2 separate regions of the Homo sapiens genome follow, and region 2 is linked to region 1. Evidence: fine-mapped expression QTL. A gene starts in region 1. The other region holds a variant in brackets. All regions are shown on one strand. Distances are between the middles of the regions.

Region 1 (4,399 bases):
CTTTCTTAGAGACAGTTCCCAAACATCAAGGTTTATGTCTTGGAGTGTTGGTAAGATGACACCTAGGTACTCTTGTGTCTTAAGTCTAGTCACTGCCCCATCATCACACGCCCCACATATCTCTAAGCTGCGCAGTGTCCACTCTTGCCACATCCCCTAAAGGAATGAACCGCGTGTGATAATAGGCACACACACTCATGCCTTCCCAAAGTTGATGAAATACTAATAAACTTCCCTAAGCCAGTCTGCTTAAGATACAAAAAAAGACTGGGAAATAAAATATTCTATAATCTTTGCCCTCCAGGGGCATCTTTCTGTATCATCTACTGAAATTGTATAGTGAACCTTTAAAATGTCTGTCATTCCAAAGGACAACAAGGAAACCCATCCTGAGTCAACACTGCAAGCACTACTGTGTGACAAAAGCCTCACCTGCTCATGCAGGTGATGGGAGCAGGTTTTCTTCTCTTGCCTCCTTTGAGTAGCTTCACAGTTAAGGAAGCAGCTGGATAATGCAGAGGCCAAGAGATATTGGACCCTGTGCTTATGGACTCCTGGACTCAAAAGCAAATGATGTAGGGACACACTGGCACTTAGAGAAATCTCAGTATTTATGCACTCCTGATATTCACGTGCTAAATAGAACAACCTTCCTCTAAAGTTCTGTTCTGCAGAACAAACAACAAAAATCTTTTCAAAGACCCCTAAGAGAGAAACACACACTGTCTAGCCCGATGTGAATGGGGAAAGAGGGCTTGAGCAACTCTATGTTCAGGAAAATCTCCTGCCACACATTCTGGAAGTATTCATACATTATTAAAGTCTTTTTATAATCCCACCTCTTGAACTTCCACACAATATGTGCCTCATCTATGTGGGAACAAAAACAGTTGTGAAATTTGGCCAGAAGAGGACAGCAGTTTGAGAGCACTGTATAGACAAGAGCACAAGGCTGAACCACATTTGGGGTGGGCTGCTTTGGATGAGCGCAGACATGCGCGAGTTTGTTCCTACCACCGTGCAGTGAAGTTGCAGAGAAATTAGGAATTAAGAACAAGATGAATCCATCCAGCTACTCCCAGCCTAAAAAAAGCAAGAAGTCCTAATAGCTATTTATATGCAACTCCCTGGGGACTGAAGTGGTTCTTCCTAATGGCTGAAAAACACTGAGTAGCAATCAGGTCTTTAAGCAGAATGTTTTTAAGACCTTATCGTGAGGACGCTGATGGAGATAATGAACGTTTGAGGTGTCGATAGTACATCTTAAAACGGTAATGGAATAGGTAGGAAGATTCGCTCTTCCAAGTATTCCTAATTTCATATTAGTAAAAGTCAGTTGTCCAGCTGGCACTATAAAAGCGCGGTGTCAGCATTAAGAAGAAGCTGAAAGGAGTTACACGATGAGAAACGAGTTACACTGTGTAGGGTTCCAGACAGCAGTGTCCGATGACAGCTACAAGAGCAGCACTCCTTACTCCTTACGGTCCAGGGGGAATGCAGGCAATTCCCCTCTGGCTGTCAGTCTCCCTATCCCCTGCCGCGTCTCCTTCGCGGGGCGATGGGTCTCAGAGCCACCCCCAGCCAAAGAAAGGGGCACGCTTTCGAGATGTCTCCCTGGCCGCTCCTGTACGGAGAGTGGCGCCTGAGGTTTCAGCCCCAACCCGCCTCCCTCCGCTAGAGTCAGCGGCGGTCTGGAGTCCCTGAGCCCCGCGGGCAGGCGCCACCTGGTCTCCGGCCCGCTGCCTAGCACAGCGGCGAAGCTGGCTCGACGTGCGATTTCGGTTTCCGTCCGTCGGCCTCGCCCGCAGTCCCGGGCGCTGGGAGCGGCTGCGCCTGGCGCGCCCGGAGCCCAGCGGCTCCCCGCGGCCGCCCCGCGGGCGGGTGCCCCGGGACGCGAAGGCCGGGCGGGTGGCGGCGCCCCTACTCACGTAGCGCTGTAGCTTCCTCTCGGGGGGCGACTTAACGAGCCAGCCGGTGCACACTGCGTCGCCCGCACTCATCGTGGCCGCCGCCGCCGCTTCCTCCAGCTGGGCCAGCCGCCCGCGGCAGAAGGAAGTCGGGCCAAGGATGCCGGCGGGGCGGGCCCAGCGCCCGCCCGCCCAGCGCCGCCCCGAGCGGCCGCTGCGACCCCCGCCTCCGGCCGCCGCGGCCCCCGGGGAGGGAACCGACGCCGCCCGCAACCCAAGACGGCGGGAAAAGCAAGCAGCGAAGCCTGGGAAGCCCCTTCGAGCAACTGCAGCTCCGCCAGCGGCTGTGCCCGGGGGGGGGGTGTGGGGGGGGGAGCCTACGCAGCAGGGCGCCTGCCACTCTCACCCAGGGTCACGAGAAAGCGCTCGGAAGGAGCCCTGCGACCTAATGGGAGCACAGCCTGGAACCTGTTGCCCTCATGCCCCATCCCCAATCCGCCACGCCAAACGGGCTGGTCCCTGGGTCTCAGGGACCCTGGAGCTGAAACCCAAGTACCACCTGCATCTGCCATGTGCATAGTTCACGGAGAAACAAAAGCAAGACTCCTCTTGGACTTCCCTATTCCACTTGATTGCTTGCACAGTAGTGTGTTTTCTATGTCCCTCCCCCAAAGATCGTTGTATTCAGTGATAAGCTTTGCCGGCTAAACGGTCTAAATGTCTTAATGAACCCAAATGACCCAAACTCAAAAGGTAGTGCTGTTTGCAATCTCTTTGACTCGAAGGTTTTAAAAGATGGATCTAAAGTCGATTGTGCCAACTAGTGTGCTGACCACGCTAAGTAAAAATAACAATCATGAGCACCTAACACTTGTGACCTTCCTTACTGCCAAGCTAACACCATGCCAGCGATTGTGCTAAGCACTTTCCAGGCGTTATCTCATTGAATCCACACAACACCCTGTCAAAGGGCTCTTATTATTATCTCAATTTTGCAGGTTACTAAAATGAAAAACAGGATGACAGTGTCACTTGTCGAGAGCCACACGAGAAAATCATCCATAGGCAGCCAGAGCTGTGTCAAGAGCCCATCCACTTAAGCACCACCCTCTGCTTTTTGTGGGTATCATCTATGTGACGTTTGCTAGCATCTTCAACAGAATGACCAACCTCCCATCCTATCAGGCCAGATGCTTCAGGGTGATGAGCTAACATGGTAACACCAGTGGAGTCCATCAGCATGCGCACACTGGCTTATAATGATTTTCTTGTGTGAGATAATGTCAGTGTGAATAATGGGTTCAGTAAGTCAATGGGCAGGAGTGCCAGCAGAAATGTGAATTTTAAAAAAGCGAATCCATGTACAAAATTAGTACCTGTTCAAGTGAGAAAAAATTGCTGCCCCTTCCAGATGGCAGTCCAGGTGGCTGTCTGGTCCCCCCAGGGAATGCTGTTATTAAGGGTTCATTGTTTGTCTCTGCCTGTGGGCAGCTTGAGCACTTAGCAGTGGCTGTGGCCATATCAACTGTTGCCAGTCCCTGAGAGCCCCACTATGCATTGCTAATTCTCTAAGTCTTGCTTACACCTCTGTTAAAAAAAAAATCCCTTAATTATACTTTCCTCATTTCAACCCCTTGAGTCTACTGTTTGCTTCCTTTTGAAACCTTGACCGATAGACCTGGTCATGAGGAACTCCCTACGACATTCTGGGTGTAAGTCCAGGGAATGGTGATCATGCAGCAGCAGGGGCCACAAAGATGTGAGCCACCTGCTCTAGCAACTTTCCTGTACCTTCCAGACCTGCTTGAGTCTGGTCTCAAATATTCCACTTCCAAAAGAGGATGAAATAGCACCAAATTTATCAGTGGCAGCTGAAGTTCCATGGTTCTTTGGTGCCCCATGGTCAAGCATTCAGACTTTGCCACAGCCCAGGAGCAAGCTGGAAGCTGTTGGTCAAAAGGAAAATACTTCTTTTGTGGTAGAGGGCATGGTTTACTTCAAAACTCTAGGGCTTTGCTGTGTGTTTCTCCTACTGGGACTTGCCAGAGGCTCCGTGTAGCCTCCCAGTGTGTCAAAGGTCCTGTACCTGTTGAATCTACATGGTCATAAGGGTCAAGTGGCCTGGACCTGTCACAGAGCCTTTTCTTGCCCTGGATCTCTCCCCGAAAACATGCAACCCTACAGATGACTTGCTGAGTGCATTGGTGCGGCACAATTAAATGTAGCATATGTTGCCTACAAAATTCAAACATCCACACCAAATGCCGTGCCTCTTTCTGAGTGGTAGGTGGTAAGCGGTACAACAACATGTTGAATACCCAACGTGGTCCAGACCATCTAAAAACTTTGCTGAGGTTCAGGCTCTTGAGTTTTCATGGGGCTTATCTCCTGCCCTGTGGTGTACTTGTATCTTAATAAAGCATCTAGAGTATTCGCTACCTCTAGATCATCAGGTCCAGTACATATGTCATCAGTGTAATAAACCAGCACAA
Region 2 (4,399 bases), 950 kb after region 1:
AGAATCAGGATAGTACAATCTAGTAATGGGTACTTACAATGTACCACCAGGCACTATTCTAAGTGCTTTATGCATATCATCTCATTTAATCCTCACAGTAGTCCTGTGAAGTAAGAACTATTATTGTACCCCTGTGATGGTTAATTTTATGTGTCAACTTGACTGGGCCATGGAATGCACAGACGTCTAGCTAAACATTATTTTTGGTTGTGTCTGTGAGGGTGTTTCGACATGAGGTTAGCATTAGAATTGTTAGACTGAATAAAAATATTGCCCTTCCCAGTGTAGGTGGGCATCATCCAATCCATTCAGGACCTGAATAGAACAAAAGGTAGAGGAAAGGTGGATTCTTTCTCTTCCTGACTGCTTAAGCTCAGACATTGGTCTTCCTCTGCCTTTGAATTTGGACGGGAAGTTACAGCCTCCTTTCTCCTGGTTCTCAGTCCTTCAGATTCAGACTAGAACTACACCATTGGCATTTCTGGATATCCAGCTTGCAAATGGAAGACTGTGAGACTTCTCAGCCTCCACAAACACACGAGCCAATTAGCCAATTTTTTTATTATACACATACACACACACACACACACACACATATATATATATATACACATATATATCTGATTGTGGGACAATGTGAGGATTAAATGAGATTATATGCATAAAGCACTTAGAATAGTGCCTGGTTGTGCATTGTAGGTAGGGGTGTGTGTGTGTGTGTGTGTGTCTGTGTGTGTGTATAAATTGGTTCTGTTTTTCTGGAGAACGCTGACTAATGCAACCCATTTCTCATATAAAGAAACTTAGACATGGATTTGAGTTTGAGTCCTGGTTTCTCTTTGGGCAGGAAGAGTAGATGAGGTAAGACTGAACTTAGGTAATCCTGAGTCCCTAGGGAAATTCCATTATGATACTATTTGTATCAGTTAGAAATTTTTGGTTATAAATAACAGAAAACCTAATTCAATCTTTCTCAAAAAATAGTGAATATGTGGTTCATATATTAGTAAAGAATGCCTTACAGAGGCTTACTCAAACAAGAATGTATTATTATCATATATCAAGAAGTTTCTAAGTAGGTTGCTTCATGGGTTTGTTTAGCAGCCTGACAATGTCACAATTTTTACAATTATCTTTGCACTTCCCTCATGCTTGTCACTTCATGGCTACAAAGTAGTGCTGCAGCTCCAGAGATCAAATCTGCATTCAATGCAAGAAATAAAGATGGATGAGTAGTACCACTCATATATGTCCCCTTTATCAAGAAAAAAACAAAAAATTGTTGGAAATTCCTCAGCAAAATTTCACTTATATCTCTTTGGCAAACTGTCATATGGCCACATCTAGTTACAAAGGAGGATGATAAAGTGAATATTCAGATTTTTCTGCCTTTAGAGTGGCAAACCACATAAAAAATGGATTTGGGAATGGATGTTGGGTCAGCTAATTGGCAGTGTCTACCACATTCCATTTCTCTGCATCTCTTAGTTCTTCCTTCTTTGCTGTATAAACTTCATCTTCAGGCTAACCCTGATATGGTGGCAAGATGTTTTCTGCTTATCTAAAGCTCACATCCTCATGCCATCAATTCCCAGGGAAGAGAAATAACTTATCTTTAACCAGTATATTTTTTTCATTTTATAGGCTCTCAATGAATTGTGTACCAATCCCCAAATCAATTACTTTGACCAAGATGGTTGAGAATGTGAGAAGAGTAGTTTCAAAAAGGGAATTCAAGGTATTGTTATCAGAAGTAGGGAGTAATGGATGCTGAGAAGCAAGCAAGTAATCAACTATCTATCCCTATTTCACCATCCACTTTAATATTTTGTGACTCTTTCCTTCCCCATTTGCACTAGAGACAATCTGGTTAGACTGTGCTGATTAATACGGAATGGCTATCAACGTGTAGTTGGGTATTACATGTGAAAATCAATGGTGTAGAGATTTCCCCAGTCAATGAATATCCTATATCAAAATTTAACCTAATAAGTGGTATCCACATAGGACTATAACTAACATCATAATAATGAAAGACTGAATTCTTGTTTCCACTAAGATTGAAAAGAAGGCAAAGATATTCACTAACA[C/T]CACTCATAATCAACATTGTATTGGAATCCCTAGCCAGTGCTAAGATTTAAGTAAGAAAAAAGAAATATAAGACAAACAGATTGGAAAGTAAGAAAGGTGACTCTCTCTATTCACAGACAACAACAGTGTCTCTATAGATAATCCCAAAGAGTCTACAGAAAAACTTCTAGAACTCATAGTTTTTTTGAACCCATCAGGGAGCTTGGGTTTCAGAGCAAACAGTTGGCCCGTATCTAAGGGAGAAAGAATGGTGCATGTGACAAAAGAGAAGACAAAATTACACACTCATATAAGACACAACAAGAACCTTGTAAGAAGCATTGAGCTAGAATAGTTGACAACGTGGTGAAGCCTGAGAGTAATCTGGCAAGACAGCGTGAAACCCCTATGTGCCAAGAACTTGGAGGGGTCAGTGTCACCTTGCACGGTCCTCCATGAACCTCAACGGGTGCTCCCAGAAAATATCAGAAAGCGTTCTAGAAGTGTATGTTGTGATGCAGATTTGGAGTAAGATATCAGTAGCTATGCTGGAGGAACAAGAAACTCCCACTGGATATTTCTCCTCTACTTCCAATACAGAAAATGAAGCCTTGAACTATGGAGGGAAGGGCAACCAGAACCTCTGGCATTATGGCATTGATGAACACTTATTGCCTCTGGGGAAAGGGAACAGGAGGAAAGCTTTACTTCTGAGAAAGGAGTAGGGTTATATGTTGAGCCTACAACTACAGCTGGGGAGAGTCAGGAAAACCTATCAGATCATATACCTAAGATGCAAGAACATAGTGCATGCCTATAACTAACTCTTAATCAGAACAACAGAGGCCACACCCCAAACTACCATCAAGCTAAAAAGCCTAAAATAGTAAATAACAACAGAATTCTGCTTGGAGATGAATGAGAAAGGAACAAAGACACATTCTCTGGGGCACAGCACAAATGGAAACCCTTAATCTCTTTTTTTTTTTTTTTGTATATATGTTAAGGTTTAATACCCAAAGTATATAAAAAACTTCTACAATTCAACAACAAAAAGACAAAACATTTTAAAACAAAATGGTTGTAAACAAACAACAAAAAGACAACCATTTTTGTCCATCTTACAATGGACAAAAGGCTTGAATAAACATTTCTCCAAAGAAGATAAACAAATGGCCAATAAGCACTTGAAAAGATGTCAACATCATTAGTCAATGGAGACATACAAACTAAAACTCCAAGCTATCACTTCACACTTACTATGATGACTATTATTAAAAAATGGAAAATAACAAGTGTTGTTGAGGATATGGGGAAATTGAAATCTTTATAAGTTAGCAATAGGAATGTGAAATGGTGCAGCTGATGTGGAAAACAGTTTGGCAGTTCCTCAACAAGTTAGACACAATTACCATATTAGCACACCTGGGTATGTACTCAAAATAATGGAAAAGAGTTACTCAAAAAAATACTTGTACACCAATGTTCATAGCAGCATTATTCACAATAGCCAAAAGGTGGAAATAATCCAAGAGTCTATCAACAGAAGAATGGATAAACAAAATGTGGCATATACACACAATGGAATACTATTCAGCCATAAAAAGGAATGAAGTTCTTTTTTTTTTTTTTTTTATTATACTCTAAGTTTTAGGGTACATGTGCAGGTTAGTTACATATGTATACATGTGCCATGCTGGTGCGCTGCACCCACTAATGTGTCATCTAGCATTAGGTATATCTCCCAATGCTATCCCTCCCCCCTCCCCTGACCCCACCACAGTCCCCAGAGTGTGATATTCCCCTTCCTGTGTCCATGTGATCTCATTGTTCAATTCCCACCTATGAGTGAGAATATGCGGTGTTTGGTTTTTTGTTCTTGCGATAGTTTACTGAGAATGATGGTTTCCAATTTCATCCATGTCCCTACAAAGGATATGAACTCATCATTTTTTATGGCTGCATAGTATTCCATGGTGTATATGTGCCACATTTTCTTAATCCAGTCTATCATTGTTGGACATTTGGGTTGGTTCCAAGTCTTTGCTATTGTGAATAGTGCCGCAATAAACATACGTGTGCATGTGTCTTTATAGCAGCATGATTTATACTCATTTGGGTATATACCCAGTAATGGGATGGCTGGGTCAAATGGTATTTCTAGTTCTAGATCCCTGAGGAATCGCCACACTGACTTCCACAATGGTTGAACTAGTTTACAGTCCCACCAACAGTGTAAAAGTGTTCCTATTTCTCCACATCCTCTCCAGCACCTGTTGTTTCCTGACTTTTTAATGATTGCCATTCTAACTGGTGTGAGATGATATCT

What was found. PIP is the estimated chance that this variant, and not a neighbour inherited with it, causes the effect.
Region 2: its variant is the best candidate, but not a certain one, in a credible set for the expression of GAB3 in whole blood (TOPMed, PIP 0.58).

What each region holds. Positions count from the first base shown.
Region 1 is chrX:154,749,026-154,753,424 of GRCh38, forward strand. It overlaps GAB3 (GRB2 associated binding protein 3), which reads right to left and starts at 2,052. Exons shown (of 10, transcript NM_001081573.3): 1 at 1,929-2,052. The coding sequence starts at 2,000. RefSeq lists silencers at 1,698-1,757, 1,928-2,007.
Region 2 is chrX:155,696,929-155,701,327 of GRCh38, forward strand. All of the region lies in intron 1 of SPRY3 (sprouty RTK signaling antagonist 3), which reads left to right. Among named protein-coding and RNA genes, the nearest start is that of TMLHE, 86 kb to the left of the region's middle. The variant C/T (reference allele first, on the strand shown) is at 2,091.